Linked DNA regions of Homo sapiens. The protein of the gene in region 5 interacts with the protein of the main gene of each other region in a pairwise test. Each region holds a gene or a part of one and is shown on either strand. Other genes may lie near its edges.

Region 1 (4,556 bases), on a different chromosome or scaffold from region 5:
CTTACCCTGAGGCAGCTGCTGTGTCCAGCTCAAGTATCAGCCAGAGCAGCTGCTGAGTTAATCCACCAAATAGAGATCCTGTAGAAGCCCAAGGAAACTGGGGCCTTTGATGAGTTCAAATTCACCACAAGGCTGAATCCAAACCTTGCTTTTTCTTAGAGAATGCCCATGGGGGAGCTACAGCACTCTTCTGATCTAACAAAAAGTAGTGGTCCTGTCCATCACTCGTAGAGGAAGCTGATGTTTGGTTTTTGCCATGACCGGTTTTTTTTGCCTGTGTACTTGGGTGAAGAGAGAAGGTAAGGTATGTGATAAAGCAGAAATTGTTCAGCACCAGAAACCACAGGCAGTAAAATCGAGGGCATGTTTCACTGTGTACATGGATGTAAGGAAAGCACCAGGAAATAGAGCATTTGCTTCTAAAAGGTTTGCAGTTCAGCTGTTGTGGGCTGAATGTAGTTTACAGATCAGCAAGTGAGCCTGAGATGCTTCTGAGTTTTAAAGGCAGCATTACTCTGACACGGGACCACCTAGTAAAGAGAGATAAGACCACCACTGAATCAAAGAGAACTCTTACCACATCCTAAATACTCAAGGTAAGCCTAGTGATGAAATGTGAAATTCTAGCACTCTAACCTTGAACTGGACAAATATGAATCTGGTAAACTGGGTTCTGAAGTGGTGAAGGTGAATCAGACCTGCAAAATATTCTCAGAGGCCGGGAATTTGCTACTATAGTGAGGTCTCTATCAACCTGCCCATATCCCATTTCTGGGATCAAAGAGTAGTACTCCATCATGAACAGGTGTCCTTCTCTATGTGAAAGGCCCTTCCTCAAACACCAAGAACTATACAGTAAGGTTTTTTGCAATACTGGATGTCAACGCCCTCCCCACACCTGCTCCACCTGCCCCACCCTCCTCTCCCTAGGCAGGCACGTGGATGTCAGCATACATGACATGGGCTCAGTGGATCACAGCCTTGAAGCATGACACTCCCTCTGCAGCCTCAGAGAAGCAATACAAGACATATATGTAGTGACAAAGCCCTAAACCCGAATTCTCAGAATGTAAACAGAACCCTTCAGACAATTATTCAGATCCACAATTAGGTCCTGGTTCCAATAAAGCATGGAGTTTTCTCTCTCACCATTCACCCCTCTGAGTCCATGGCCAATACATCCTCCCACTCCTTTTTACCACAGATAATGTCTGAAGGAGTTGGGCAGCTGAGCAGACTGTAAGGACACTCAGGACACTCTAGGGTGCACAGGTTTCCAGCTGACTATTGGACATTGTGGGCAGGTCCTGCTCACACACAGTTCCAGACACGGCAGAGACCAATGGAGACGCCACCGCCATTGCTGAGCAGATGGCTAATGAGGCAGAAAGTCTATGAAGGGAGCTTCCAGAAGAGTCAGTGTCAACCCAGGGAAAAGTCAGTGAGCCAGAAATAGCCGAGGCTTTTCAGCACCATTGACCCTGAACTGCCTTTGAGCTACAGGAACAAGGAGTTGGGTCTCAGGCCCAGCAGGGTCATTTACACAAAAGTACATGGAAGTTGGAATCTTTAAATATTATTAATTAAACTGAGAACTTTCAAAAGGGTATTAAAGGATTATGATGTCAGTCCTCAAGCAAACCTCATAACAGCAATCAAGCAAAGGCTTGGCTATGAGAACGGTGACTCGGAAATAATATAAATGGACTGCTTGATGACTTTATGGCTTAGTTCTTGGTTCTAATTCCTGATAGCTGGTAAGTGCACATTGATCCTCTGGCTGTTAATTCATTCAGGTCTCACGTGGCTGCAATCCCCCAGATATTTCTTCAGTCAGGGCATCTTTCTCTCAGGGACCTCCTCTCCCAGGAGAAACTCTGTAGAGTCTGAGGGTTCAAAGAGAACCCACCTGCTCACCTGCATAGGAACTGCCTAGAACATCATCCCACGAGGAGTCACTTGGCCACCTCCTGGGCATCTCTGGTGTAAGCAGATGAAATGCTTGTACTTAATCTATGGAAACCTGCATTTTCCTGCAGGAGTCCTTTGCCGCTCCTTTCTCTACGAGCAGTAAGTCCTCACCGCATTATGGACACTTGAAACTGGCCTCCCCTAATGACCATTCTGGAGGGTTTGCTCCTCCTGGATTACTGAATAATTGCCCATGGAGTTACTGTTCTCAGTCAAGGTTCCCCTCCATGCAGGAATAGATAATGGAGCAATTCTCCTCAGAAAGAGGTCTTGAGGCGATTGCATTGTGTGAGCTTGAGGCCTCCAGTATAATCTGAGAACAATGTTCTTTTGGGAGGACTGAGCCTCAAGATTTGGGGAGAAATTAATCTCTGGGCCTATAGAAGAGGAACATTATGGAAGAAACTATGTGAGATGTTAGTCAAGGGAAAAGAAAATATTTCCTACCCATTAAAGTAAAAATCAAGCACTGAATCTGACTCCAGATGTAGTGAAGAATAAGAAAAGCCAAAAGCGCTAGGCAGATTACTAACTCCTGTGAGAAAACAAGAAGAAAGCTTCACTGATATTATCACAAATAATTATTTTCAACATTATTTCAATGGACTTTTCATTTTGGCTTGAGCCCTACTACGTGCTCTTCATGGGGTAGTGCACTACTGTTTTCAGAAAACAGCCCCTCCGCACACAGCTTCTACTACCATGTATAAGAATTGCCACACATTTTCTAGAAATAATCAGTCTACTGCATCTTTTACCTAAAAACCACCTCATAAGATTTCTTCCCACCAAACATTTATTTTTGTCATTTTATCTGTGAAAATAAACATCCAACCCCAAAGCATGTTACTTTTAATTTTCCAAAATCATTTCCTTTTACTACCTCATGGAATTGAAGTCTCTTGGGCAGATACAATCAAAATAATAAGTCATTGTCTGATTTTTGAGAACATGTTGTTTGTGGTTCATAATCAATCACCTGATGACCCAGGAGCATGGAACTGGAGAGTGCTTTCTGGCAGCTTCTTGCCTGGGCAACACTCACACCCTACACATCATTTAAGAATGCTCATGAGTATGGAGTCACCATGAACATTCTTCCTTGTGAAGAAATTGTAAAAGATTTCTTCTGTGGACTCTTCAAGACATGCAAACATCTAACCAAGTGTTAGGGGGAAGACATGGACTTCAAACTCATCATATAAAGAAAGAGTCTCTTGAAAAAAATCTCTGTGGAGGAGCACCTGTGCTTTTCCACTCCCAGGAGTACATGCTTAGGAAGCACAGGTTTAATCAAGCCAAGACTGTCTCTGTCTAGCTGTAGCCAGCACACTCCAAGAATCCATGAATCAGAGGTTATTCTCCAGAACAGACTTAAAACTCAAGTGTGCTCCTTGGGGGTTGCTGGGAATGACACAAAAGCAGGGGATTAGTCTTTAGAAGCCCAAGGAGGACACAGGGAAGGCTGAGCAAGGGCAAGTGGCCGTTGGTAAGGAGGACTGGGGACACAGCCAGTCACTGCAGATGAAGCAGCGCTCAGTAGCATGCCTAAGGGCCAGGCTCACTTGCACCCCTCCCCTGGGAAGCCAGGTGTGAGGTCACCATGCACCAGGAGAGTGAACTCAAATTTGTTTTGTTTTATGTTTTCTTTTATATAGAGCTCAAAACAAGCCAACATTGGGGGATGAATTGTTTCTGTACTTTTCCCCTGGCTGAGGTTTCTCTCTGCCCCTTTGAAAACCCTTTTTCTTCTTGCTGTGGCCTGTTCCAGTGGGACCCTAGGGGGCGCGGGAAAGCATAGACACAAGTGCATCATCACTAACCTGAGAAGTAGCTGCAGGTGCACTAGTTTCCTTACCACTCACAGCTGCCCTCTCACTCGCTGCGGCTGCTGCCACTTCTGCCTTCCGTACATTCGAATCCTCAGAACCTGGAGGCCCTATTTGCCCCAGACCTTCGCTCCCTGGGGTGCAAGGTGGGTTGGTGGTGGCTTTCCGGGTTTGGCCTTTATACCAACTAGGGTAAAACAAGGGATCCGCAGTTTCTGCTGCTGCAGGGACTGGAGTTTCAGACTCTGTGGTCTGCTCAGAGCCAGTGGGTACAACCTCCCCCTTAATCAGGACAGATAAATTCAAAAGTAAAGAAAAAAAAAAAGAAGAAGAAGAAGAAAAAGCAGTTGATTTTAGTTCCCTTTGGGTTTGAACACTGTGCGCTCCCTGCATGCAGTGCCTTGGTGGCCGTTTTAGTTCATCCCACCCTCCAGAAGCGCTAAGGGCAGAATGGTGACTACAGTGCCCCTCTGTCCAGCATCTGGATGGGTGCCCTCTTCTTTTCTGAGCTTGTCTTTCACTCACTGGGAGCCCAGGCAGGCAGAGAGCAGAAACCTCAGTGAATGTTGGTTATAAAATATCAGATATGGGAAAAGGGTCAAACTATTGACTAGAATAATTTGTTGGCTTTATACGTGAGTCCCAAAAACCTCATTATAAAAAACAAAAATTAATCTTATTGATCAAATCCAACCCTCACTTAGTTACTATACCTCTTTCAATTTTAATACAACTGAAATGCTCAGAATTTAAAAA
Region 2 (4,556 bases), on a different chromosome or scaffold from region 5:
CAAAGAAAATCCTCCCCAGAACCTGAGAATGAACATTCCAATTCTTAACTTTCTAGTAGGATAATAAATCAGAGGTTAGAAGAAGATTATCATCTACAAGTCTATCAGAACTAAATATAGGCATTTATGGCTATATCAGAGGAAGACATTTCACTCTAAAGGAGTATTAGGCCAGGTACAGTGGCTCACGCCTGTAAACCCAGCACTTTAGGAGGCTAAGGTGGGCAGATCATTTGAGCTCAGGAGTTTGAGACCAGCCTGGGCAATATGGTGAAAACCCATCTCTACCAAAAATACAAAAAAATTAGCCAGGCGTGGTGGCACACGCCTGTAATCCCAGCTACTCAGGAGGCTGAGGTAGGAGGGTCTCTTGAGCCCAGAAGACGGAGGTTGTAGTGAGCTGAGATTGCACTCCTTCACCTCAGCCTGGGTGATGGAGCGAGACTCCATCTCAAAAAAAAAAAAAGTATTAGATGATAGGTGAGTTATGATAGGAGAGTAATTATGAAGAGGACACTAAAGGATACTCTAAGACTGAGAGAAAAACTGTAACACAGGATAAACTTCACAGGGAGTTCAAATGTCATAGAAGAAGTTTTGATTTCCTTTTCTTTTTCTTTTCTTTTTTTTTTTTTTTTTTTGAGATGGAGTTTTGTGCTTGTTGCCCAGGCTGGAGTGCAGTGGCGCGATCTCTGCTCACTCAACCACCGCCTTCTGGTTTCAAGTGATTCTCCTGACTCAGCCTCCCAAGTAGCTGGGATTACAGGCATCCGCAACCACATCCAGCTAATTTTTGTATTTTTTAGTAGAGACGGGGTTTCACCATGTTGTCCAGGCTGGTCTCAAACTCCTGACTTTGTGATCCACCCACCTTGGCCTCCCAAAGTGCTGGGATTAGAGGCGTGAGCCACTGCGCCCGGGAGAAGTTGTGATTTCAACCCACATCATGGCAAACGGAATTGTCCTGGCCAGAGCTGGTCCCCAGTGGCTGTAAAAGCAAGAAAAACATATGGAAACACAGGTGAACCAAGGTTGGCTGGCAGGTGAGCTGAAGAAGTTGGCAGCATTGCTGCGGGCATAAGACGTATTAGGAGAACCAACGGAAAGTGGTCACCAGGCCTCATGAGAGACTCTGAGCCACAATCACCCAGACGAACTGTTCTCAGGTTCTTGACCCTCAGAAACGATTCAAGAGAATAAATATTTGTTGTTTTAAGCTGTCAAGTTTTGAAATAATTTGTTATGCCACAATAGATGACTAGTTCATTGTCCCAGACTAAAAATAAACTTTCCACCCAGCTTTCTCTGCTAGCTGCTATTCTCTCTTTCTCCCCTTTCCCTCTCCAGACTCCATCAAAGGGTGGCATTTCCACCATCACTCTTCAGGCTATGGAATCTGTATGCGAAGACTTTCCAAGGGGTACATGGTATAGATAGCTTCAGGAGGATCAGCTCCCAGATGCTCAACTTTATATTTAATCTTTCCCAGAGCTGCTCTGCCTGGGAAGGAACTAGCATTTGAGGCTTCATGTAGATTCTTTTTTCACAATAGTCCTTTTTCTCTTTATTACAAAAGTAAAACTATACCTCTCACTTATCCTGAATATTTCATTGCACTGTAAGATTTCATTGCTTGGTAATTAAAAAAAAAAAAAAAAAAAAACACCTCCAGGGGACTAAATGGAAGGACAATTTGAAGTATTGCTATCAATGGTGGAGGGTGAATGACATTAATGAATGCATAAGAAAAAATTTGTTTTCAAGCTAAGTGGTTTCCAGTTCTTTGCTTTCAATAAAGTTGAAGGAGGATCTAATCAAATTGTCAGCTAATATATGATTAAAAATAATTTTTCATGATAGATCACTATGTACTTTTTGAAACACATTTCAGAAAGAGTTCAAAAATGTGAGTGACATTGCTATAATAAAACACTTTCATTTCCATCAATGTTTGATTACGTAGCTAAGCAAGGTTGCTCTGTTCTTACATCAACAAAATGAAAAGCGGAAAGACAATTGACCCTAATTCCTGTTGCAGTCTAAAATATGTAATTTTCATCAATGGATACACAAATAAACTTTTTTTAAAAAAGCTCCATCTACCTCATTAAGAGATGCATTTCCATTTTATTTTTCATTTAACAATTATTGGCCAGGCGTGGTGGCTCACGCCTGTAATCCCAACACTTTGGGAGGCCGAGGCGGGCAGATCATGAGGTCAGGAGATCGAAACCGTCCTGGCTAACACGGTGAAACCCCATCTCTACTAAAAATACAAAAAATTAGCCGGGCGTGGTGGCGGGCGCCTGTAGTCCCAGCTACTTGGGAGGCTGAGGCAGGAGAATGGCGTGAACCTGGGAGGCGGAGGTTGCAGTGAGCCAAGATCACGCCACTGCACTCCAGCCTGGGCGACAGAGCGAGACTCCATCTCAAAAATAACAATAATAATTATTATTATTTACCAAAATTTGTAATATGTTTATGTTATTTTGCTTACATGTGATTAAAAGTTGTATTGGTAACTTCATCCAAAAGAAAAAAAGAGTTTAATATTCAGAGATGTATGGTCCCAGGAGAACAAGAGAAAATCTTTCATCTCAAGTTATACATCTGTATTTTTGTAGAGAAGTATCATAGATGACCAACAAAAGACTTTCCAAGCACAGAAAAATATTACAGGTCAGGTACAGTGGCTGACACCCGTTATCCAAGCACTTTGGGAGGCAAAGGTGGGAGGACCACTTGAGCTTAGGAGTTCGAGACCAGCCTGGGCAACAAAAAGAAACCTCACCTCTATTTAAAAATCAAAAAACAAAACTAGCCCAGCGTGGTGGTGTGTGCCTGCAGTCCCAGCTACTCGGGATGCTAAGGTGGGAGGATCACTTTAGCTTGGAAGATTGAGGCTGCAGTGAGCTATTATCTTGCCACTGCACTCCAGCCTGGGTGACAGAGCAAGACCCTGTCAGAAGATAGAAAGGAAGAAAGAACGAAAGGAAGAAAATTCATGTTTTAAGTGCACAATTCAATGATTTTTAGTAAATTCCCCAAATTGTGCAGCCATCATCACAATCCAGTTCCTAATGCCTACCCCCATTAAAAAATTGTGGTAAATCTAATGTCTTTTTTTAAAAAAACTAATATTATTAAACTATTTTAACATGACATATATATATAATGTTTTGAGAAAAATAAGCAAAATATTTTAAGATATGGTTTAGCACTGTTTTTTCCTTATCCATCACTTTTATGATCCAGTTTTCCTTAACTTCCATTTATGTGATCAAAGTTAGCAGCCAGCTGTTTGTCTTCCCTATTTGTTCCACAGTTGTACACAGAAAACAGAAGTCAACAAGTTCGTCGGCTTCCCCTATCAGCTCTGTTTAACTTTCTGCAGTGATAGACTGTCACTTCTGCTGATAGACTGTCCTTTTAATAGCCACTTCCCAAACTATATTTTTAAAAAGGCATTAAGTTTTCTTTCCACTATCTCCACTGTTTTGTTTTTTTTTTTTTTTTTGAGACAGGGTCTTGCTCTGTTGCCCAGGTTGGAGCACAGTGGTGAAATCTCAGCTCACTGCAGCCTTGACCTTCTGGGCTCAAACAATCCTCCCACCTCAGCCTCCTGAGCAGATGGGATCACAGGCATGCACCACCACGCCTGGCTAATTTTTGTAATTTTTGTAGAGACACGGTCTCACTATGTTGCCCAGGCTGGTCTCAAACTCCTGCTTAAGCAATCCTCCCGCCTTGGTCTCCCAAAATGTTGGGATTACAGGTGTGAGCCAATGCGCCTGGCCTATCTCCACTTTTGATTGCCCTTTTAATATAACATTTTCTCATGGCCTAATTTGGAAATTCATGGACCCTGTCTGGTGCTCTCCTGACTGCTCCATGCCATTCAATCCTATTGACCCTTCTGTGTCCCCCGGCTCAGCTGGGATTTCCCCTAGGCCACTGACTGCTGAAATCTCTGCCAAGTTCCTCCCCTTGGCTGCTCTTTATATGCAGGCATCCCCTTAACCTCCATTCTAGGCCCTCTTCCCACTCTCCACTTGCTCTAGGTGATCTCATCCAGTCTCACAGCTTCTATGTCCCCGTCTTTTCTGAGGGCTCCAAATCCATGTCTCTGGCTCTAACCTGTGCCCCATGCAGAGGCAGAGGCTCAGAGGTGCAGCTGCTGTCTTGAGCAGCCCCCTCCAGCAGCCCCCTCAAACTCAGCACTGCCAGATGGAGCTCATTGCCTCTCTCTTTCCCCAACTCACCATGTGGTGTGACGTCACCTCCACGGCAGCCCCTGCATGCTGCCTGTTAGTGGGGTGTCCTCCCACCAGCCCTGCCAGAACTCCTCCTCTCAATAAGGTTTCTCAAACTTTCCTGCACACACGTCGCCTTGGGGTTCTGGTTAAACGTAGAGTCAGAAAGTCTAGAGTGAGGTCTGGAAAACTGCATTTCTAAATCTCTAAATGGTGCCTATTCTGCTGGTCTACCTTGTAAGGTAGAAGATGCCTGGATGCCCAGCTGGCCCGTGAGAGGTTGGGACAGTCTTCCAGAAAACC
Region 3 (4,556 bases), about 160 Mb from region 5:
TGCTCTCTGGCTATCTATTCGTACTTCTTATGTCAAATGAGTTAACCTAAAAAACTAAAAATAATTTCAGCACTCGTCTGTAATCCCAGTATTTTGGGAGGCTGAGGGTTGGTGGAGCACTTGAACTGAGGAGTTCCAAACCAGCCTAGGCAACACGGCAAAACCCTGTCTCTACACGAAATACAAACATCAGCTGGGCATGGTGGCACAGGACTACAGTCTCAGCTACTTTGGAGGCTGAGGAGGGAGGATGGCTAGAGGCTGGGAAGTTGACGCTGAAGTGAGCCGAGATAGCACCACTGCACTCTAGCCTAGGTGACACGGCAAGACCGTATCTCCAAAAAAAAAAAAAAAAAAAAAAAAAAAGCCGGGCGCAGTGGCTCATGCCTGTAATCCCAGCACTTTGGGAGGACAAGGTGGGCGGATCACAAGGTCAGGAGTTTGAGACCAGTCTGGCCAACATGGTGAAACCCCATCTCTACTAAAAATACAAAATTTAGCCGGGCATGGTGGCGTGCGCCTGTAGTCCCAGCTACTCAGGAGGCTGAGGCAGGAGAATCACATGAACCCAGGAGGCAGGGGTTGCAGTGAGCTGAGATCGCACCCCTGCACTCCTGCCTGGGCAACAAAGCAAGGCTCCATCTCAAAAAGCAAAACACGGCCGGGCACGGTGGCTCACGCCTGTAATCCCAGCACTTCGGGAGGCCAAGGCGGGTGGATCACGAGGTCAGGAGATCGAGACCATCCTGGCTAACATGGTGAAACCCCGTCTCTACTAAAAATACAAAACAAAAAAAATTAGCCGGGTGTGGTGGCGGGTGCCTGTAGTCCCAGCTACTCAGGAGGCTGAGGCAGGAGAATGGCATGAACCCAGGAGGCAGAGCCTGCAGTGAGCCAAGATCACGCCACTGCACTCTAGCCTGGGCAACAGAGTGAGACTCCATCTCAAAAAAAAACAAAAACAAAAAAACTAAGAAAAATTTCACTTACGAAAAAATTATGTTTAAAAAATAGAAATTCATCTGTTTCACCTAATAAACCAACCATCACTGTCTTCATATCAATTTTAAGTTCAAATAAACAATGCAAAAAATGGAACAGAATATTAGCATAACTTTTGAACATACAAAACATTATAAAGTTACAAACAAAAGAAAAATAATCTATATTGTAAATTAGTCACTTGAAAAACAGGACCTATGACTTCATCAAGCATTTCTCTCATCCTCTAGCCATCTACCAGTACTGGTAGCCACCACCACTAAACCACAAGAGGGCATAGGCAAATTATGTCAAACCTCCCCCTTCTGAATAGCTGATGAATCCTAAACTAAATTCTCCATCAGCCCTCAGGTCTTGCATGCCTCCCTCCCATCCCTCACTATGCCCACTGTCCCAGTGACCAGACGGAGAAAAATTCTCTTGCAGGGAAAGGCACCTGGCAACTGGGAGCAATATGCAAAGTAGCAAGAGTAATTACTCTCTTGGAGTAATGTGGGGAATAAGGGCTTGGAAACAGGTAGGAGACAATGCTGGTCAAGTGTTGTTCCCTGAAGATAGCTACTGATGAAACAGACGTTCACACTGTGAACTGAGGAAATCCACGTCAGCTACTGAAAACAAGCAACACACAGTCTTTCATTCATAAATATTGATACAGAATCACGCATCACCAAACATTGAGAAAACTAATATAGAAAAAAGGTCAAGATAAATAGAAAACTGACCATGGATAAGAGATAATTCAACAGATGAAAGAAATCTTTTTTAAAAATGTAACAAATATTATCAGATTAATAAACATCTGTAAAATACCATCATGCTATATAAAGAAAAGCAAAAATTAAGGACATTAGAAAAATTTAAAGATAAATTCTGAAGCAAAGACTCAGTGGCTAAAGCAAATAATAAAACTGACCCTGAAAGGCCAGTTTCGTGATCTCTAAGATAAAGGTAAGAGAATATCCCAGAATTGAGAACAAAAGTCAACCTGTAGATATATATTCAGAAGGCCAAATGTGTGTCTAACAAAAGTTCCAGAACACAGAGAAGTCAAAGAAGGAAAAAATAAAGAAGAAAATTTCCCTAAATTAAAGAAATACAGAATCTTTAGGATGAAAGGAACTCTCTAGAAGTATCCTGGTAAAATTTCCAAACTTTAAGAAAATACCAAAGCTTCCACAGAGGGAGATAGAAAACAAAACACAGTTATCTACAAAGTAACACAGGTATATTACAATCAGGCTTCTCATCAGTAAAACTAAACACTAGGAGAAATGGAATAATTCAAAGTTTTGAAGGAAAAAAAACTGGAATCTAAATTCTATACACAGCCAAACCAATCAAGTATGAATATATTTTTGACTATTCCAGAATTCAGAATGTTTACAGCTCATGCACTATTTATAAAAAAAAAATTACTCAAGAATTAGTAATTACTCAATTACTAATATAGCGAATTGAACAGAAACCCAAGAAAGACAGTAACATGAGATATGAGCAACATGGCAGCTGAAATCTGATTCAGGAAATCACAAAGGAAGCTACAGAGAAAAAGAATTCACTAGATAGTGATATATCTCTCTGGGTGGCAAAGTCTTAATAATACAGAATATTTTCTGTGTCCAAACATATTTGGTTATAGAATAACATTTACATAATTGTAGTATTATCAATTTTCTTTCCTGGTTTTCCAACTTTTAAGTCTCAAGTTTAGACAAAGTACTTATACCTGGATTGTATTAGAGGACAAACTATGAATGTGATAACAATGAAAAATAATATCACAAAAATTGCAAAGTAGTACAGCAAGAGAGGTAGAACAAGAGTAACAACAAGAAAGTCCTCAGCTTTCACTGCAGGGATGAACTGATACTGACTGAAGTTGAACAAACATGAAATGGAAGCTTTTTATTATTTCCTTAAAGCAAAAAAAAGGCAAGCAGACGAACAAGAGGAACAATATTATGAAGACATGAGATGTGAATGAGGAAGGGTGTAGGTAGGAGGTACAATAAGGACACAGAATTCCTTATCTTTCATAGCAGGGAATCAATGAACTGATAAACAAGAAAACTTGAAATACATTAAAAGTTAAAATAGTACTTCCTAGAAGAATTTCCAACAGATACTTTTTAACAGCAGTTACCTCTAAGGAATGAAACTGAGGATGAGAAAGGAGGATACTTTCTTACTTTGTAGCTTTTTTTAATGAGTTTTGTTGATTTTTTTTTTTTAACCTTATTCAGACATTACTGCTACAATTTTTGAAGGGGGAATATGTAGATGACACATTGCTAAGTAAAAAAAGCAAGCTGTAGAGCGTATATATAACAATGATGGACTGGGGAGAAGAGAACTTAATTTTTTATTATACTTCCTTTTTAAACAGCAAATATAGTCTTGGTTGCACTGTCTTCTGACACCACACCTACTGACCGTGGATGAATGATGGATACCCAAAAGAGATTTCTTGTGTAAAACACTTAGCAGGAGAAAGCCAATCTGAAAGCAGTAATAAATGCTTATAGCGTTTTTTTTTCTTAAGTTCAATTCTCAAATCTGGTAAGGGGAAATGATCCCATTCTATATGCTCAGCCTCCCTCTCATTTCAAATTATTTGTGAGATCACCAGTAAATATTTTAGAAAATAAGTAAATAGCAAGAAAAAAAGGAGACCTTAGAAGCATTCTACTGAGGCCCACCCACCCCCAGTATTTTCAAAAGCACTACAATTGTTTAAAATACCTCCAATCCCAGGCGAATAGCGGCTTCTGTAAAGCTTCGTCTCTCCCTCTCAAAATTCTTTTTCTGCTCTTTAAAAAGGGACCATTCTTCTTTGAGACGTTCCTTTTCTTCCAACAAATAACAGTCTCGTAATAGTGAAGTGGTATCATCATCATATGCAGTAGCGAGCTGCTGCTATTAAAATTTAAAACATAGTAAGTTCCTGAGGGACCTTGCGACACTCCAACGAGTTGAAATGAAAGCAAGGGAAGGCCAGTCAAACTTCAGGGCAGGAATAGAAATTATTAAGAATCAAAAAGTCAAATGAGAATTCTCATTTCCCGAAACCTACTACCCCAACTAGCAAAGTATGGACTATTTAAGGAGTGGTACACAATGTATCTGTTAGCAGGGAACACAGACTAGAAATCTGTCAAATACCAGGGCCTTATGAAATAAAGGAATACAAATCTGGTAAGGTTCAGCACAATTCTGGCTTTTCATGGAGAACAGCTTTAAAAGGTAATTCATATTCACCTGTAAAAGCTGTTGCTGAGTTTTAATCATTTCTTTACACTGCTGAATTTCTAACTCGAGTTTTTCAGTTTCTTGTTCATGGTCTTGTCGTGAGATTACATCTTCATCATTAAAACCTTCCAGGTGTACCTTTGAAACTAAGACAAAATCAGTAAGTTGACATAGGTCTTATAGCCACCACTTAGTTTACAGTGTTTTGCACATATCTTTAAAACAAGGGCTCTCAGAACTTTTATCTTTCTAGAATTTTATAGGTTTTCTAAAAAGTAGTTACGTCCTTTGACTTTTTAAAA
Region 4 (4,556 bases), on a different chromosome or scaffold from region 5:
TCTCCAGAACTTTTAATCATCCCAAACAGAAACTCTAACGTTTGTATTTTTAGTAGAGACGGGGTTTCCCCATGTTGACCAGGCTGGTCTTGAACCCCTGACCTCAGGTGATCCACCCACCTCAGCTCCCAAAGTGCTAGGATTACAAGCATGAGCCACTGCGCTCAGCCTCACCCACTTTTTAGAATGTATTATGTCTTTAATATTTACCTACTGTGGTATCTTTGATAGTTTACAATTTCATACTCATCAAGCTGTAATTACTGACTGAACATTTCTAAAGAATCATCTTGAAACCCTGTTTATCCATATTTGTGACTGAATATCAGTGTTTATAACAAAACAGAGTCCTGGGTCTACTGTAGTAGCCTAAATATAGTACTTACTCAAATATTAATATAACAATTAGGTAAATAGTATATATTTGGCTTTCTGGGACTCAAATACAACTTAGCTAAATTTTTTAATATCTCTGATGAAATTCTGAAATATGGGTATATTTGATTTTTAGATTTGGAACTTGAAGATGAATTTTTCTTCCTCATCAAAGGAATATCTAATACTGCCTTCAAATGAATAAAATTGAGTTTATTCTATTTGGTTTCTCTTTTTCTTAGAAAGGAAATACTCCTGTCAAATGCATAACTTGAATCTAAACATGAGGAAACAATCAGATAAACCCAAACAGAAGTATCTTCTATGAAACAAATAGCTTCTACCTAAAAATGTCAATGTTATGAAAGACACAGAGAGGCTGAGGAACTGTTTCAGATTAAAGGAGGCTAAAGATACATTATTTCAGATGCAACCAATGCTCTTGAATTGGGAAGGGGATGGAATGTACTACAAAGATCATTACTTAGATAACTGAAACATTTGGATATGGGACAATATTAGATAATAATATTGGATCAATGTGATAAATGCCATGAATATGATAATTGTATTGTGGTTATATAAGTCAATGTCCTTGTTCTTAGGAAATACATACTGAAATAGTTAGGGGTGAAGAATTGTATCTGCAACTTGCCCTCAAATTGTTTAGCAATAGATAGATAGATACATAGATACAGAAAGACAGTAAAATATGCAAAATGCTAACAACTGTTAAATCTAGGAGGTAAAGCTTAAAAAGTTGTTCTACATATTATTATTATTACATTTCTGTAGGTTTAAAACTTTTTCAAAATACAAAATTGAAAAAACGTTTTAAAAAACACAAAACTCTAAAACATGGCATTTGAAATCAACAAACGTAAAAGAATGGTAACATATAATTATCAATTTGCACATTAAACTTCAATCTAATAAAAGGACTGAGGAGGAACCAAGTATAATAGGGTAGACTTGGCCCTGTGAGTCTTACCTTAACTTCCCCAGAGTTGAGGACATGAAGGGTGAACAAGTCTATTGGGGGCCTCTTTGGACTGGCATTTAGGTTGCCATTCAAGAAGAAATCTGGAATATATATGTAAGAATAAAGGTACATAAAGAGATAAATCAATCTGGAGAAAAAGAACAAAGTGGCTTTCTTTACTAGATATTAAGATAGGCTACGCGGCTGGGCACAATGGCTCACGCCTGTAATTCCAGCACTTTGGGAGGCCAAGGTGGAAAGATCTCTTGAGTCCAGCAGTTTGAGACCAGCCTGGGCAACATAGGGAGACCTCATCCCTATCAGAAAAAAATTAAAAAAAACAAAAAGATATGCCACAAAGTGAAAGTAATAAAAATAACCTTGTACAGGTACAGGAACAAATAATCAGTAGAATATGACAGAGCTGTAACTTGGACTTAGGTATTTCAGGAACTTCACATATATCACAGGTGGCACTATAAGACAAAGGAGATAGAACAGACTAAGTTTAGTATGATGGTATCGTGAACATTGGCTAACTATGTGGACATAAGCAGGATCTTAAACACAGAAGTAGGCTGGGCGCGGTGGCTCACGCCTGTAATCCTAGCCCTTTGGGAGGCTGAGGTGGGCGGATCACGAGGTCAGGAGTTCGAGACCAGCCTGATCAACATGGTGAAACTCTGTCTCTACTAAAAATACAAAAATTAGCCAGGTGTGGTGGCGGGTGCCTGTAATTCCAGCTACTCAGGAGGCTGAGGCAGGAGAATCGCTTGAACCCAGGGGGTGGAGGTTGCAGTGAGCTGAGATCATACCATTGCACTCCAGCCTGGGCGACAGAGCAAGACTCCGTCTCAAAAAGAAAAAAAAGTGGAGTGCAAATGCATTAAAGACCTAAATGTGAATGGCAGAACTGTAAATGCAATAGAAGAAAATATCTGTTACCTTGGAGTGAAGAAAGATTTCTTGAACAAGACTAAAAAGCTTAAACAATAAGGGAGGAAAACAGTGAGTTTGATTACTCATAATTGAGAATTTCTATTCAATGAAAAAAATATAAACAAAAAGATAGATAAGAGACTGGAAGGAGATATTTTCTGTGTCCAAAGCTGATGGTATTTAATGGCTGGAATAAAAAGAGAACACCTAGAAATTAGCAAGGAAAAAGAAAACCCAATAGAAAAATGGGCAAAGGATATAAAAACATAATTCACAGATTGAGGAATCCCAAACAGATAATTAACTAGGAATCAGAGAAATTCAAGTTGCAAAGAAATTGCAACCTCCGCCTTTCTGGGTTCACATGATTCTCCTGCTGAGGCCTCCCGAGTAGCTGGGATTACAGGCACCTGCCACCATGCCCGGCTAATTTTTGTATTTTTAGTAGAGACGATGTTTCGCCATGTTGGCCAGGCTGGTCTCGAATTCCTGACCTCAAGTGATCTGCCCTCCTTGGCCTCCTAAAGTGCTTGGATTACAGCATGAGCCACCGTACCTGGCCACATCTGGCTAATTTTTAAAATTCATTTTTTTTGTAGAGACAGGGTGTCACTGTGTTGCCCAGGCTGGTCTCGAATGCCTGTACTCAAGCAATCCTCCCACTTCCCAAAGTGCTGGGATTACTGGCGTAAGCCACCATGCCTGGACTGGTTTGAACCTTTTATAACAAAACCCAGATCACAGCAGTCCTCTGCTCAACACACTCTAGTTGCTTCCCATATCAGAGAAAAAAATTATCTACATATCTGGTCCCCAGCTGTGGTAGGCAGAATAATAGTCTTCAAAGATGTCTTTGTCCTAATCCCCAGAAGCTGGGACTATGTTATGTTATGTGGCAAGGGGGAATTAAGGTTGCTAATCAGCTGACTCTGAGGGTGGGAAAATTCTCCTGGATTAATTGGGTGGTACTAATGTAATCACAAGGGTCTTTTTTTTTTTTCTTTTTGGGACAGAGTCTCACTCTGTTGCCCAGGTTGGAGTGCAGTGGTGTGATCTAGGGTGACTGCAGCCTCCGCCTCCTGGGTTCAAGTGATTCTCGTGCCTCAGCTCCCAAGTAGCTGGGATTACAGGTGCCTGCCACCACGATCAGTTAATTTTTGTATTTTTGGGGAGAGACAGGGTTTTGCCATGTTGAACAGGCTGGTCTTGAACTCCTGACCTCAAGTGATCCACCTGCCTTGGCCTCCCAAAATGCTGGGATTATAGGTGTGAGTCACCGCACCTGCCACACAAGAGTCTTTAGAAGTGAAAGAGGGAGGTAGAATGTGTTAGCCATGATGCAATGTGAGGAGGACTTGACTGGCCATTTTTGGCGTTGAATATAGACTGGGATCACAAGCCAAGGAACATGGGCTGCCAGTAGAAGCTGGAAAGGCAAGAAAGGGGATTTTCCCCTAGAGCCTCCAGAAGGAATGTAGACCTGCCTGACATCTTGATTTTAGCCCAGTGAGACCCAATTTGAACTTGTAAATCTCCAGAACCGTGTGATAATAAATTTGTGTTGCTTAAAGACACCAAGTGTGTGGTAAATTGTTGCACAGCCGTAGCAAACAACTCTACTAGCAAGCACTCTCTCCTGTCTCTTTGCCTTATTCGACCCCAGACCTATCACCCCATTGCTGTTCCTCAAGCATATTCTATGCCAAACCTTCTCCTGCTTCAGGACCTTTGCACTTACAGTTCCCCCAGCCTGAAGCAATTTTTGCATTGCAAACCACATCCCTTGAGGATAGTTAGTGACATGGGGCCTGGAACTGTGAAGAATGGCAGACTTCTGCTGCTAGTCATGATGGAGTAACAGAGACCAGACTTATCCTCATGCTTTCAGCATCTTTTTTTTTTTTTTTTTTTTTTGAGACAGAGTTTTGTTCTTGTCCCCCAGGCTGGAGGGCGATGGCACGATCTCGGCTTACCGCAACCTCTGCCTCCCGGGTTCAAGCAAGTCTCCTGCCTCAGCCTCCCGAGTAGCTGGATTACAGGCATGAGCCACCGTGCCCCGCCTGCTTTCAGCATCAAAACACAAAACACATGAAGCAATGGCTTTTAGATATTGGACAACAGGCAGTTCGGGAGAGTGATCCTTGAGAAACAGGAAATAAAGTGAGCCCTATGAATGGACATTGCCTGGAACTTTCAGGCCTCGGCATAAGGAGGAAACTCTCTGATTTAAAAAACGGAACACAGGCCGGGCGCGGTGGCT
Region 5 (4,556 bases):
TCTGGATACCAGAGAGAGACTCCATCTCAAACAAAACAAAACAAAACAAAAAAACCCCAAAAACTTTGGCACTTCCTTTCTCTCTCTCTTGCTCCTTCTCTCCCCATGTGACATGTCAGCTCCCCTTCCCCTTCTGCCATGACTGGAAGCTCTCTGAGGTCCTCATCAGAAGCAGATGCTGGCTTTATGCTTCTGATAAAGCCTGCAGAACCATTAGCCAAATAAAACTCTTCCTTATAAATTACTCAGCCTAGGTATTCCTTTATAGCAATGCAAGCAGACTAAAACAATACTGTTTTCAAGTGAACTATTTTGCAAACATTTAACATCCATGTTACATTGAAGTATATATTTTTGGTAAAAACTTTGAGAATAAATTGATGTTGTCTTAATTTATTTTGTTTGCTTGGTTTTTTTTTTTCCCCGAGATGGTGTTTTGCTCTTGTTTCCCTGGCTGGAGTGCAATGGCACAACCTCAGCTCATTGCAACCTCCGCCTCCCAGGTTCAAGCAATTCTCCTGCCTCAGCCTCCCAAACAGCAGGGATTACAGGCATGCACCATCACACTGGGCTAATTTTGTATTTTTAGTAGAGACGGGTTTTTGCCGTGTTGGTCAGGCTGGTCTCAAACTCCTGACCTCAGGTGATCCGCCCACCTCAGCATCCCAAAGTGCTGGGATTACAGGTGTGAGCCACCATGCCTGGCCTTGTTTGCTTTAAACATATGATTATATACTACAATTGACCCCAAGGGGGACTGCTTCCTCTTGTGAGGGCAAATTACCTTAGATTTCTTGAAGAATTTTTGTACTGATCTTCAATGCTCTGGTCTTCCCCTTTGTTTCCTAAAATGTAGACCCAGAAATATATTACAAATTATTTGAAATTATAGAAAAATTACTAGACTCTAGGTGCTATGTTGGGGATATGGTTTGTACCCACCAAAATGAATGCTGTAATTTGGTCATCAATATGGCAACATTGTTTGTGTTATGGGTACAGATTCCTTATTAATAGATTAATGTCCTTGCTTGGGAATGCATGTTTTCTCTTACTCTTGCAAGACTGAATTAGTTGCCAGAGGGCAGGTTGTTATAAAAGCAAGTTTAGCTCCCAAGAATTGCTCTTATTTTCTTGCTGTGATCCCTTTGCACATGCCCACTTGCTTCTGCTTCATGCCCTGAGCTGAAGTAGCATCAGGTCCTTACCAGATGCAACCTTGGACTTTCTAGCCACTAGAATCATAAACCAATATAAAACTATTTTTGTAAATTACCCAGGATCAGGTATTCTGTTATCACAATTAAAAAATAGACTAAGAAACAAGAGTCATTGCACACTGGGTCCATGCCTCATTCACTCATCAAAGTGTTCCCTTTGTACATTCCAAATCATGGAATGACATTGAAAACCATGAAACACTTACTTTCTGATTGACTAAGTGAAGAAATATTGTGATTCTTACCTATGGAAGCCAGATTCCTGAAGGTTTCCTGCATCACGTCTCTATAGAGATTCTTCTGGGAAGGATCCAACAAAGCCCACTCCTCCTGGGTGAAGTTCACAGCCACATCCTCAAAGGCAACCGAGTTCTAAAATATTCCACATTTTTGTAGAGGATGGATGAGACTGAAAGCACTGGAAATCTGTAGTCAATTTATAAGATGTTCATCTGATTCTGTGGCGAACATTTATTCTACTATTTGGTCACTAGAACTATGACTCTGTCTACACTTCCTTTCTCCCACATAGCAGTTCTTTTTTTTTTTTTTTTTTTTTTTTTGAGACGGAGTCTCACTCTGTTGCCAGGCTGGAGTGCAGTGGCACCGTCTCAGCTCACTGCAATCTTCGCCTCGCAGGCTCAAGTGATTCTCCTGCCTCTGCCTCTCAAGTAGCTGGGACTACAGGCACATGTCACCACGCCCAGCTAATTTTTGTATTTTTAGTAGAGACAGGATTTCACCATGTTGGCCAGGATGGCCTCGATCTCTTGACCTCGTGATCTGCCTGTCTTGGCCTCCCAAAGTGCTGGGATAACAGGCGTGAGCCACCGCGCTCAGCCAGCAGTTCTTATGCTAAAGTTGAACTGTTCAGCAAGGCAGCAGCAGAGAAGGAACACCCTTCTTGTTGGTGGGTCCAGGGAGTAATATTTGCTGTTATGATTTTTCTTTATAGCATATACCTGCAGTACATATCATATCAAAGTCTTACTATCTGGTGTGCATAAGAGAGTTAATATGAGCCGTCACAAGACTACTTACCCTTAGAAATACCTGCTACAAAGTTCAACCTTTGCTGGTATGAGGGAACTTACATTTTAAGAGGCATCCCAACAACCTAAGTGATAAAAGTAGCTCACTGTTGCTAAATAGTTTATCTAAACAATCTGGTATTTGCTGAACCCCTGTTTTCCTTCCAAAAGTCTATTATTTTGTTTTATTGTAGCAGTGGTGCCTAGGGGGATCAGCCTCAATAAACAAACAAAAACACACTCTGAGCACTGAGTATCTGATGAGCTTCCCTGGTAGATAATATTTCATATATGATGTCACAACTTTTTAATTGGGAAATTGAGCCCAATCCACGTGGTTACACAAAGAGAAAATGTGTAGAAGCTTATAAGTGCTTCACTCAAGCCCAAATTTAATCAAGAGGTAATTAACACTAATAATCAATATTCAATAATCCAAAAATAATTATTTTACAATTTCTACTGAAAAATGTCAAAGCAGAATAGAATAAGTGAAAAGGCATGCGTTCAAAGAAAAAAACTCAATGTCATCTAGATGTCACCTCTTACAAATGATATTTATGTAAAATTTCATAGATGCCTGAAACAGACTTTCTAGCAGTTCAGCAGAAACTACTTTTCAAAACCTACAGAAATAACAAACGCCTAACAACCGTCAAAGTCTTCTGAATAACAGTGTGATGGTTTGCCTAATACACATCAATGATTTTCAAATATAATATTCAGGGCAGTGTAGTATAAGCAGAGAGATAAAGAACTAGGCCAAGAGAAAGGCATATAGTCTTTAATTAGCTGGAATTGATATGGAAAGCTGACTAATAACAGAGGAGGCATTGTAGGATAGTGAAGGAAGTATCAAGCACTTTAAACATGGAACAAAGCTAACCGGTATTTAATTGGGAAAAAAATGAATTGCATTGACCTCTATTAGTTGGACAATAATCAATTTGTCATATATTCAAAAGTAAAAAGTATAAATAGACCACTTGCAGAAGTCACAGACAAGGTTTTTTTTGACATATGAATAGGAGAAAAGGAGCAAACAATAGAGACTGACAAATTCAAATATATTAAAATTAGGAGAATTAAAAGACAAAAAACAGTAAAATAAAAATCTGCAATACATGCAATATAAAAGAAATTAGTGTGCACAGTAAAAATGAATGAAAACATGATTAAAAAATGGGAAAAAAAAGCAAAAGATACATAACAAGAAAAAAGACCATTTATGGAAAGAGATCCATTTTCTTGGTAATAAAACAGCCAAATAATATGGCATATTACTATAATAATAATAGTAAATAATAGTCCACATTCTTTAGAAGAACAAAAATTAGAGAATCTCAAGTGGTGATTACCACACCAAATAAATACGCAGAAATGAAGGCCAAGGCAGTGGATATACTCCATTGCTATTTCCAGTAATTTGAACTTTACCACAATCTACAGTCCAGTAATTTTTCTCTAATGTCCAGAAAATTTATTGTGCATTATCAGAGTTTATATTCAGCATTCTTAAGGAAAAGAAATTCCAACCATGAATTTCCCATCCAGCCAAAAGAAGCTTCATAATCATTTTCAGACAAGCAACTACTAAGAGAATTTGTTCCCACTAGATCTGCCTTATAAGAGTTCCTAAAGGTAGTGCTAAATATGGAAAGATCATTAACAGCCACCACAAAAACACACGTAAGTACATAGACCAGTGACACTATAAAGCAAGCATACAAACAAGTCTGCATAATAACTAGCTAACGACACAATAACAAGATCAAATCTACACATATGAATAGTAACCTTGAATGTAAATGGGCTAAATGCCCCAATTAAAAGGCAAAATGACAAGCTGGATAGAGAAACAAAACCAATCGTATGCTGTCTTCAAGAGACCCATCTCACATGCAATGACGCCCACACATTCAAAGTAAAGAGATAGAGAAAAATCTACAACACAAATGGAAAACAGAAAAAAGTAAATCTAGGAGCAATAGGCCATACCATATAGCCTAGGTGTGTGGTATATTATGCCATCTAGGTTTGCGTAAGTACACGCTATTATGTTCTCACTATAAAACTGCCTAACAACACATTAAGCAATGTATGACTGTATATCTTTACTTATATATAAAATATATTAACCCTTGGCAAAAAAAAAAAAAAAAGCAGGGATTACTAGTCAAATTTCAGATAAAACAGACTTTAAACCAAAAACAAAAAAAGACACGGGTATTACATATTGGTAAAAGGTTCAATCCAACAAGCAGACCTAACTATCCTAAATACGTATGCACCCAACACAAGAGCA

What was found.
Region 1: the proteins of ZNF124 (region 5) and TRIM55 interact in a two-hybrid assay, tested with the Homo sapiens proteins (one large-scale study listed by BioGRID and IntAct).
Region 2: the proteins of ZNF124 (region 5) and FSD2 interact in binary tests that used the Homo sapiens proteins (3 or more experiments, as listed by UniProt).
Region 3: the proteins of ZNF124 (region 5) and SSX2IP interact in binary tests that used the Homo sapiens proteins (3 or more experiments, as listed by UniProt).
Region 4: the proteins of ZNF124 (region 5) and TSGA10 interact in binary tests that used the Homo sapiens proteins (3 or more experiments, as listed by UniProt).

Annotation. Positions count from the first base shown.
Region 1 is NC_000008.11:66,153,573-66,158,128, reverse strand, and holds part of TRIM55 (tripartite motif-containing protein 55), read right to left. Parts: intron 4,083-4,556; coding exon 3,795-4,082; intron 2,507-3,794; coding exon of another isoform or gene 2,419-2,506; intron 1-2,418. UniProt on the Homo sapiens protein: E3 ubiquitin ligase that plays an important role in regulating cardiac development and contractility, muscle growth, metabolism, and fiber-type differentiation.
Region 2 is NC_000015.10:82,795,379-82,799,934, forward strand, and holds part of FSD2 (fibronectin type III and SPRY domain-containing protein 2), read right to left. Parts: intron 989-4,556; exon of another isoform or gene 872-988; intron 1-871.
Region 3 is NC_000001.11:84,652,085-84,656,640, forward strand, and holds part of SSX2IP (afadin- and alpha-actinin-binding protein), read right to left. Parts: intron 4,401-4,556; coding exon 4,264-4,400; intron 3,922-4,263; coding exon 3,748-3,921; intron 3,505-3,747; coding exon of another isoform or gene 3,381-3,504; intron 1-3,380. UniProt on the Homo sapiens protein: Belongs to an adhesion system, which plays a role in the organization of homotypic, interneuronal and heterotypic cell-cell adherens junctions (AJs).
Region 4 is NC_000002.12:99,144,304-99,148,859, reverse strand, and holds part of TSGA10 (testis-specific gene 10 protein), read left to right. Parts: intron 1-511; exon of another isoform or gene 512-596; intron 597-1,366; exon of another isoform or gene 1,367-1,458; intron 1,459-1,737; exon of another isoform or gene 1,738-1,833; intron 1,834-4,556. UniProt on the Homo sapiens protein: Plays a role in spermatogenesis. When overexpressed, prevents nuclear localization of HIF1A.
Region 5 is NC_000001.11:247,158,222-247,162,777, forward strand, and holds part of ZNF124 (zinc finger protein 124), read right to left. Parts: intron 1,593-4,556; coding exon 1,466-1,592; intron 846-1,465; coding exon 785-845; intron 1-784. UniProt on the Homo sapiens protein: May be involved in transcriptional regulation.